2 separate regions of the Homo sapiens genome follow, and region 2 is reported to be linked to region 1. The links are microRNA targets in miRTarBase. Many come from high-throughput screens and were not tested one by one. Region 1 holds a microRNA gene; the other region holds the end of a gene's coding sequence.
The links. The annotated mature microRNA hsa-miR-6732-3p reads UAACCCUGUCCUCUCCCUCCCAG and lies in region 1 at 1,846-1,868, opposite strand. An mRNA with a match to its seed (bases 2 to 7 or 8) in the 3' UTR can be bound and repressed. Matches are read on the target gene's strand: a 7mer-m8 pairs with bases 2 to 8, a 7mer-A1 pairs with bases 2 to 7 and ends in A, and an 8mer does both.

Region 1 (5,172 bases):
GTTGGTTCGTAGAGAGGCCACCTGGAACCATCAACCACATACATCCCCTCATAAGTGCTACGGCTCTATCTCCCAAATTAGCCACTCTCTCCACCCCACAGCCTGCCTGGTCCCGGTCTGATTTCTCCTATGTGGTGAGCTATCCGTCTCACTCTCAAAGCTGCCTGGAGCCAAGACCCGCAACCTCCCATGGCCACAGGGCCCCGCAGAGCCCAGCCCCCAGCTCCACCCTTGCCAAGGGCACCTCTGGCTTCCCCTGTGGACCCCAAGTCTGTCAGGGCCTCTGGGAGGGAACATACTTGTCATTGACGAAGGAGTACATGAGCAGCCGCTCCTCGATGAAGCGCTTCCACTCCTGCCGCTCGCCTTGGAGGTCACGGTATGTGTCGTTGGAAACCACGATCCCGTCAGACTCGTAGGCCAGCTTCACAATGAATCTGTCGTCATAGCACACCACCCGCTTGCCACCCACGCGTCGTGATGGTGTGAACACCAGGATCTTCTTCTTCTCCAGTTCCCGCAGGATGTGCTGGTCTGGGAGGTGACGGGTGCACACAGGTCAGGGCCCAGCGGGACCTAGAGCCAGGCCTACAGGGCTCCCTAACCTGCTGATGGCCACACACAGGAGTGGTTAACGCCAAGGTCACCGGGGCAAGAACTAACTCTGCTGAGGCCTCTTCCATGCCCCAGCCCCTCCCTTGGCGTGGCACAGTTTGCTGCCTGAAGACCAAGAACATCTGAACACAGGCGGCAGGGCCTGCATGGCAGAGGCTCCAAGCACAGAGCTGGCCTTGTTCCTTTTCTCCTTCTGGACATCAGGCCTGTTCAAGCCAGATGTGGTCTTGGCTTTGGCTTTCATCCAGCCTGTTCTGAGGGGTCCGTGAATGAGCCGCAGCTTGCTCTGGGGTGGGAGAAGTATCTTGGCTCTGTCCCTTGCATTGCCAGGACAAGGTCGCTAAATCCCATGGTGGGAAAAGGTCAGGCCACTCACCATGCCCCACCTGGGGAGCTGCTGGGACCACAGGGACACAGAAGTGTGCAAGTGGAAAGGGCCCCTCTTCCTGGAGCCTACAGTCCCAGACAGGCTGCCCCCAGATCTCAAGACTTCTAGAGAAACTGATTCAGTTTTTACCTCCAAAGGCTGGGGGCTCTTGCAAGAACAGTGGTAACAGCTAACATACACTGAGCATCTACCATGTGCCAGGTACTCTTCTCAGCACTTACCGTGTGTTAACTTATATGACCTCACGAGGAAGGCAATGCTGTCAACACCCCCTGCTGACACCGACCCCATGTTTCAGATGAGGAGCATGTGGCTCAGAGCAGGGCTAAGAGGGGTCCCTGTCCAGGCCAGGGCGCCAAGAGGGGACAGAGCCAGGATTCCAACTCTGGCTGTCTCGACTCAGAGCCCACAGGCTTAACCACTATGTGATACTGCGCTTCTGCCACTGGGGATGTTGAAAGAGCGACCTGCCCACCAGTAGGATGAGGGAGGGGCTCCAGATCTGAGGCAGAAGACTGGACAAGGTGACCTCCAATGACCACCATTCAGAGCAGGTTGCTAAGGACAGAAAAAACTGAGAAAAGAAATGCTGGTCCCTGCTTGAGTTCTAGAAGTTGTAGGTCACTCCCAGAGGGTCTCTCTTGGGGAGAACCAGGGCTGCTGGGGCAGTAAGACCATCCCACCTCCAGAGGCACCACTCACCTGTGATGGGCACGTCGGGCCGAGGCTGCTCCTTCCTCCAGGATGGCACAAACACTGTGATGTCTGTGTGGCCCCGCTCCAGAAACCAGTTCACTGCCAGCAGGATGCCCCGGCAGGAGAAGACCTCCTTGTTCCCATGGCTGGGAGGGAGAGGACAGGGTTAGCCCACACTGATGGCCAGCCTGCCACCCCCTAGGCCTGAGCAGGAGGAGGGAGGTGGTCACACCCCACCCCTGCCCTGGCTTTGGTGGTGGTAGTGAGCAGTCCCTTCCCCTTTGGAGTCACCAGCCCCTTCCCCTTTCCCCAGGGCTCAGGCCCTGGCCCTCTGCAGGTGGGGCCCAAGGCCAAGGCCTCCATTCCCAGTGCCAGTTCCCACAGCTCCAGGATGGCCAGGCCCCGCTGGGACTTTCCCTGAGGCTCCATCTCCTGAAAGTGAGGAAGCGCCCAGGAAGCTGGCAGCACTGCTCCCCACGGTGGGGGAGGGCCAGGCCACTTGCAACACACCTGGGGGTGGGGGAAAGGTGCCGCGAGACTTCTGGTTCCTGCCCCACCCGGCGAGCTGCCGGGACCACAGGGACAGATGTACACATGCACACTGAGTCACCACCCCTCCCTCGCCTCTTGCAGCGTGGGTGGGGGCGGGGGAAGCACCGGCTGGGCTGACCGAGGAGAAACCAGATTGTTCCGGATTAAAGTTCAGTCCTCACACACACCTCAGGGACTGGGGCCTGAGAAAGGCAAAGGGGAAGGGGCTGGCGACTCCAGCCTTCAGCATGGGACAGAAAGCGCCGGAGTGAAGCAAGTTCCCCAGGAGCCTTTCAGTCTGAAAGTGAAAGGATACTGCTTTTCCTCCCAAGATGGCAATTCCCCCAAATGCCTCTTCACCCCAAGGCAGAAAGACCATCAGGAAGATGCTAGGGGACTCTTAGCAAGGACAGCTGAGTAAGGCATGGGCCCTGCCTTGGTCTCAGACGAGGCCGCGCCCCACCCACAGGTGGCTGCACCCAGAAGGAAGCCTGGCAGGGCTCCTGGGCTGCCGCAGCTCTCCGTTCCTCTATCTGAAAATGGGCCCAGCAGTCTGCAGCTTCCTTAAGAGGGGTCAGTCAGTGGGACAGCTTTCCTGGTGGCTTCAGGCCAAAGATGGCCCTGCAAAGTAGGGGTTCCAACTGGATTTCCTGAGGGATGGGGGACTGGGGCTTGGGGCTCCCAGGTAACACTAGGTGTCATGGAAGAGCTCCTAGGACCAGCAGCCCCACGTCTCACTGCCCCCTCAGTGAACAGCTTAGACTCTCGTATTTGGCAAATAAAACAGAATAAATGTTACGCAAAAGAGGCAAGTCCAGGGCCAACCACATCCTGTGGGTGTCTTTAATGGGAGTGGGGGAGGTAAGGGGTGATAGCTGGAGCCCTAAGAGAAGCTAGGGAGGGAGGTGGGGCAGCTGGGGGCCATGGAGGCTATTTGGGGGCAAGACTGGGGCACCAGGGTCTGAAGGTCTCTAAATTGTAGGGGAGACAAAGTCCAGCCCAGGGCAGCACTCATCCTTCCCGGTCCCTCTGCCACATCTGCCAGCCTGCTTATAATAAAAGTTCCCATTTGCTGAGAGCTGTGAACCAGGCCCTGTTATAAGTGTCTAACACTGAATCATCAGCAAGCTTGTGAGGAGGGCACTATACCATCATCAACTCCTTCCCTGTTTTTCAGATGAAAACTGTGGTCCAGAGAAGGCAGCTTAGTCACCAGGGTCACACAGCAGTTAACGGTGGAAGAGAGACGCAAGCCCAGGGCCTATGCTTATCACTACCCTGTACGTCAATGCTCAGGCAGGTACGAAGGCAGGCACAGACCCTGATCGCAGGGAATGAGCAGGGATTCGCAGGCACTGAGCTCCCGCTGGTGGCCAGATATATGGCTTCATTCTTATAGGGCTTGCTACCGTGAAGGAAAGGAAGGTCACCTGGCTAGTGGTAAGAGACAGTCAGAACTCGAACCCAGGTCTGGGCCACTCGGTTGCCTTCCTGTCTCTAACAGAAGATCCAGAATTTATTTGGGAGAACAAAGCTCCCAAAATTGAGTTTGAACAAAGTGTGTTATGAGAGACAGGTGGCGAACGGGAGAAACAATGCTGCTGGCAAACTCCTGCTCTTCCTTCAGAACCCTTGTGAGATGTCACTGCCTCTGAGAAGCCTTCCCTGACCTGCCACAATAGGTCAGGTCCCTGGTCTGTGTCTTCACAATGCCCAGTGCTTCCCCCATCACATCACCCCCCTTCCTTGGGCCTTCTGGCCTGCCTCTCAAAACCATGGCAGCTGGGTCATCCCAGGCCTGGCTCCTTGTCTCAGGTATGCAGTGTGCGCATGTATCCGCCCACCTGCCTCCCTCCGGGCACATGATCCTAGGCTAGTATCTTGGAGCACTGGGAACTAATGGGATGCCAGGGCTCTCAGGGCAGTGCACTGCCTGTGGGCACTGAAAATCTTGGCTGGGACAAGTCGGTTCTCAGCAGCCCTAGCACCTGAATATTCCCTCAGCAGATGGAAAAACTGATCAGTGGGCGCTATCAGAGCCCTCCTCCTGGTAGAGCACATGAGGCCTGGAGTGCCCCCCTACAGCTAGCTTTAGTCTCTTTCACTGCACTGGAGGAAGCGCTGCTGGCACAGGAAAACCAGACATCCCTGCCCCCATTCCAGTTCTCTTTGCCTGTAAGGTCAGGGTCCCCCAGCCGGGCTAAGCAGACACTGATAGGATGTGTGTGTAGAAGACTCCAGCTAGGCTGCTCCTGCCCCAGGACAGAAGGCAGGGCTGGGCCAGCCTCCCCAGGTGAAAAGATATGCCTGGGCTGGGCCTGGCGAGTGGAAAAAAATTCCCTTAGAAGGAAACAGAGGTGAATTTCCCCATGATTTGCATATGATGGGGGGGCTAGCCCGCCTGCCCCTGGGGAGGGGGGGTGGCCGGGCAGGAACCGAGTAGCAGCTGAGACAGGAAGTTTGAGGCTGGAATTCCCCTCCTGCCACTACCCCAGCTCAGAAACCCCCGAGGTGGGTGCGTGGCTCTGCTTCTCAGGAGCAGGCTCCTCTGAGCACCCCTCATCACAGCCCCTCCTCCCATGTCCCTCCTCCTTCTGGATACAAACACATACTGCATATGGCTGCTCCCAGGGCTCAGCCGCTCCTGGCCCATACCTCCAGAGGAAGGAGTCACACAGATCCAACCTAGCTCCTAGCCCAGCTACATGAGGCTGGACACTGAGAGGGACCCCTTCTAATCTCGAAGCATGGGCTGTGACCTGCTGCCTCTTGGCATGGAAACTGGATTTTCTCAGCCTCCCATCCAGGCTCAGCCCAAGTCAGAGAGAGGAAGACTGGCCTGAAGGTGACAGAAGGAGGGAAGAGCACTCAGCTGCATGCCTGCTGAGCTGGGCCAGGGCCAGCTGGACAGTGAACTTGTCCCACAGGGGCCACAAATTAGG
Region 2 (5,000 bases), not on the chromosome of region 1:
GTAGAACTCTGATGGGGCCTTGTGCGGCCGAACCACAATCCAAGAGAGGTGTTCACATCATGTGTCGCTAGCCACAGCCATCTCAAGGGGAAATGCCCCAAATGTAGAAGTATCTGACACCAGGACTGGGGGTTGGAGCACTGGATGAACAGCGTGTGTGCCACTCTTTCACTGTGCACCGTCCTAAGAAAGAAGCCTGTTTCCCTTTGAAGAGCCTAGTGCTGACTGCCCAATTCAATCGGACCACGCAGGGCAGTCTGAGGATTAAAAGATGCTACCTTTAATTCCTTCGGCTAATTCAGAAGTATGTGAAACACAACATACTCATTAACATGGAAGAACTGGATGTGTGTGCATGTGGGTGTGTATTATTTATTTTTCAGAGACAAGGTTTCACCATGTTGCCCAGGCTGGTCTTGAACTCCTGGGCTCAAGTGATCCTCCCACCTCAGCTCCAGAGTAGCTGGGAACGAAGAATTGTATGTATTTCTGAGTGAGATAGAGTACACGATAAAACCACATAATTTATATCATTATAAATAACATACAAAATTTTGGAGGCTGAAATAATATACATGAGCAGTCATAAAATACAATGAAATCATGTGCTTTGCAGCCACATGGATGGAGCTTGAGGTAATTATCCTAACCTCGGAAACAGAAAATCAAATAGCACATGTTCTCACTTATAAGTGGGAGCTAAATAATGGGTACCTATGGACATAAAGATGGAAATAGCAAACACTGGGCACTCCAAAAGGGGGTGAGTGGGAGGGGGGGCAAGGGTTGAAATGCTACCTGAGTACAATGTTCACTATTTGGGTGATAGGTATGACAGAAGCCCAATCCCCACCAGTACGCAATATACACAAACACGCACATGTGGCTGGGCGCAGTGGCTCACGCCTGTAATCCCAGCACTTGGGAGGCTGAGGCAGGTAGATCACTTGAGGTGAGGAGTTTGAGACCAGCCTGGCCAACATGGTGAAACTCCCGTCTCTACTAAAAATACAAAAATTAGCCAGGTGTGGTGGCATGTGCCTGTAATCCCAGCTATCTGGGGGGCTGAGGCGGGAGGATCACTTGAACCTGGGAGACAGAGTTGCAGTAAGCCAAGATCACACCACTGGGCGACAGAGTGAGACTCCATCTCAAAAAACAAAACAGAACAAAACAAAACAAAACAAAACTAACATGCTCATGTACCTGCTGAATCTAAAATAAAATAATATACACTAAAATGTTAAAATTGATTTTAGTAGAATAAAAGGTGACTGAATATTTTAAAAAGTTATGCCTAGATGAATACTTTATGATTTTACATTGCAGCATTTTTTGAACATGGCAGCAGCTACTATGAATTGTCTATCCAACTGCCACTCCAGCTTCCTCCCTACTAACAAAACCCCAGCTCAAGGGCAAGTGTGCTCAGTGCCAGGGGATACACTAGTCGACCCATCCCCCTTTGCCAGGGCCTGGTCCAAGAGTGGGCACGTGGCCCCACTCTATAAAGAGACAGGGGGGAGGTTGCTGGAGCTGCTGACGGTTATTCCCGGATAAGGGCAGAATGAGAAGGCTCCTGTACTACTGTCCACTCTGGCTGTGGACACCATCATTTGCAGAATGATGCTTGGCGCAGGAGCAGCCATTCTGCAATACTGAGGATGGCAAAGCAGACGGTTCCAAGGAAATCCTGATGACATTTTGGCTTCCACCCAACTCTAGAACCATCTATTTACAGACTTTTTGCTATGTGAGATAAACATTCCCATTGCTTAAGCCACCGTCAGGCTAATTTTCTGTTACTTGTGCTGATCACATCCTGTTATAGGCAGTTATCTGTCTGGCACCGAATAAATGCCTCATGTTCACTCTAATTTAAAAGCAACCCTATTAAGCTACTACTGTCTCACTCTTACATAAAATAAAATAAATAAAATCAAGCTTAAAGAGGATAAGTGATTTTTTCCAACCAAAGTTACTGGTGGAGTCAGATTCAAACCCAACCGTGACTCGACAGCCTGGACTCTGCCACTTAAACATGTAGTTAGAAAAGTGTGCAAGCCTATTGTTCCTTCTTTCTGTATTTAACAGAAAGCATATACACAGATGCAGGGAGCAACAAATTTGCATCCACTTGCACTCATGTATAAATTTGGCTTTGGGCTCTTCTCCTCTGTCATCTGTCCATATTCCTTGGTAGAAATGCATGCCTCAGGGGCCTGACCAAGAAGGTGGACTCTCCTCTCTTTTCCCACACTTATTAATAAGACCTAATTTGTGCATCAGGGATCTGAGACAGGTTGTGAGGACTTTGATACGGAGTCATAAGGTTCAAGCCAAGACATCTGAATGGGCGAAATGAACGTGAAAGCAGTACATGTTCTTCCTCAAACTTTCTTGGAAGGGTCAGAAAACAGAAGATTGAAAAATACCCAATATCTAACATCGGGCCATTGAGTTCGTCCAAAAAAAGCAGAAGAGTATTTCTGAACCAAAGAAACAGAATAGAAAGAGAGGATGAGAATGGAGACCTGCTGGCCGTGCATCAGCTATTTAAAGGAAGAAAGGGCTGGAGCCCAGAGTTAACCAAAGCTTAGCCTTAGACCAAACAGGGCTTCCCAGCACAGGTTTCCAAGGAACCCTTTCTGCTCCAGTCCTCTACAGTGAGAAGAGCCCAGAATAACACTGTCCAATGGAGCTGACATGAGCTTCAGCACCAGAAAGGGTGATATGGTCACCAAATATTCAGTCAGCCTCACAGCTGCTGGCTGGGCAGGTTGAGGGCTTTGTAGGAGAAGCCCAGCCTTGACAAATGAGTAACAGGCTTGAGGAACTTTGAAAAGAAGGAAGGTGAGCCTGAAGGAAGATGTACCCAAAATCTAAGGGGCCACTAGGAATCAGGGATGGGGGTGGAGGGGAAGCGGTTCTTCCTGAGCCCCTATGGTTCATACTGTCCCAGAGGCCAGGTGCCACGACGCCAGCAAAGGGAAGTTGTGCCATCAGCGTCTAACAGCCACACACGCTGCCGCATGAGACCTTTTTCTAACCTGCAAACGTCTCCCCAGCTGAACCAGGGAAAACCCCAGCCCTACTGTCAAGACAAGAGGAGAAGCTGTTCCTCCAGGGACAACACAGTACAATGACCTGGTAAAGGGAACAGGATCACAGACCCAAAAAAGTAACACTGAGTAGGTGGCTCTGGCAGTGCTAGGACAGGAGACGGGCAGGCCTCTGAAACCCAAAGTTTTTGAAGTGGGCATCATCGGCCAAGTGTCAAAGAGGCCATTATTCAATACATCCCTAACTTCTCTTATGAAGGATTTAGTTTTTTTGTTAGCAATATATGACTTCGGCTCATACATGAGTACTAACTGCAAAGGAAAGAGTGCAGGGAACATGTCCTGGGCCCAACATGTCCCCCAAAGGCTTTTGTAGGGTGCTGGGAGGGGTCTCTGACTTCTTCCTTTCTATTACCTGCAGCTATTACAGTAACTCACACAGGAGGCACCTGGCTAACAGGAGCCAGGAGAAAAAGGCATAGAACAATCTGACACCATAAATTTAGGGCATCAGGCCCAGGGTGAGGACGGGATATAAAGCAGGAAGGGGCAAGAGTGGGGACGGGAGCAGCTCTAGTCGCTGCTTCTGGGAGATTTAGAATCTCTATTTTGTTTGAAAATAGACTCAGGTAGAGAAAAAGGACATGAACGTTTATTGAGTGCCTGCTGGTTCTGGCCTTGTGCAGTTTTCATCTATAATAGCCCATGAATCCTCACGCCAACCCTGGAGGTAGGTATCATCCCCATTTGTGTCGGATGAGGTATAGGAGGCTCAGAAAGGTTAGGTAGTTTGTCCAAGGACACAGAACCAGGAACTGGCAAGCTGGGACCGAGTGCTTAAGTCTCAGACTCAATCCTTGCTCTCTCTCCTATACTGCCTCCAGGAGGACGGGGGGAGCACCAGCAGAAGCTGCAGTCCACACGCTTCCTGCCCCTGCAACCCAGCAGGCACCAAGAGAAGCCGGCCCCTTCACACAGACCCTCCCCATCTACCCTTGGAGGATGCATCAGTGGAAGAGATTAAGACATAAATACAAAAATAAATAGCAGGGCCAAGTCCCCAGCAGCAAGGATGTGCCATCTCCACGCTGCAGGAAGGTCACTGTGCCATTCACAGCTGCTGTGGGAGGAAGCCCTGGGGGACCTGGAACAATGGTTGCCAAAGGCTGGAGTGAGTGGGCTCAGTGGGCCCCTTCTGGGTCTCACAGATTCAAGAACAAAATGTCTGGAGCAGGCAGCAGCCGTGGGCACAGGCGCCGTCCTCCTCCACCTGCTCATTTTACCGGTGTTTGTGATCCAAGAGGGATTCAAAATCAGGGGAACATACAAGTTTGTGCTTCACGTGTCCCAGGACTGTCATCTCCCCTGTCCTACTGTCTCCAAGGCCCACGGACACCAGCTCCTGCCAATTAACAGAGACAGTGATGAGAACCACCACCACGTGCCCGGCGTGTAGAGCTGTGAATGGGGACATGATACTCCCAGAAACCCCCTCCCTTATTTAGCAGTGGCTCTTCAATCCTCCTTCACTCCTGAAAGGGTCCCTCCTTGCCCCTAAGGAGGCTCTTACCTGCAGGAAGGAGCAGGCAGTTCCCATGGTCACGTCCAGAGTCACCTTGCCCAAGAGGAGTTGCACCCTTCCAGACTTGCGGATGAGTAGCTTGCCAACCTGACCCTCTGTCAGGTCAGCCAGGGTACAAGCATTCTCTGCCAATTTGGCTTCCTGCGGAGAAAACCAGAGGATGGACACTGGGCTAGGAGCTCTTTCCTCCATCTTTCATGAACCCCCTTCTACTCCCCAAGAGAAAGGCACAGCAAAGGTCAAAATGAGCTCCCCAAAGAGTGCCTTCTCCTAGGGCTGTCTGCTATGGTTAAAATACAAAACCCACAGCAAACAAATACATACACGGACAAAATATCAGTTACTGCTGAAGCTGA

Region 2: miRTarBase lists POLR3D as a target of hsa-miR-6732-3p. Seed matches in the 3' UTR shown: 7mer-m8 at 3,783-3,789.

The regions. Positions count from the first base shown.
Region 1 is chr1:37,476,963-37,482,134 of GRCh38, reverse strand. MIR6732 (microRNA 6732) reads right to left here and starts at 1,905; the gene lies at 1,846-1,905. ZC3H12A (zinc finger CCCH-type containing 12A) reads right to left here. Exons shown (of 6, transcript NM_025079.3): 3 at 1,706-1,845; 4 at 300-534. RefSeq lists enhancers at 1,557-2,383, 2,153-2,447, 2,221-2,760, 2,384-3,210, 4,601-4,900.
Region 2 is chr8:22,249,860-22,254,859 of GRCh38, reverse strand. POLR3D (RNA polymerase III subunit D) reads right to left here. Exons shown (of 9, transcript NM_001722.3): 8 at 4,633-4,785; 9 at 259-4,464. The coding sequence ends at 4,342. PIWIL2-DT (PIWIL2 divergent transcript) reads left to right here. Exons shown (of 2, transcript NR_134293.1): 2 at 1-284. Among named protein-coding and RNA genes, the nearest start is that of POLR3D, 7.2 kb to the right of the region's middle.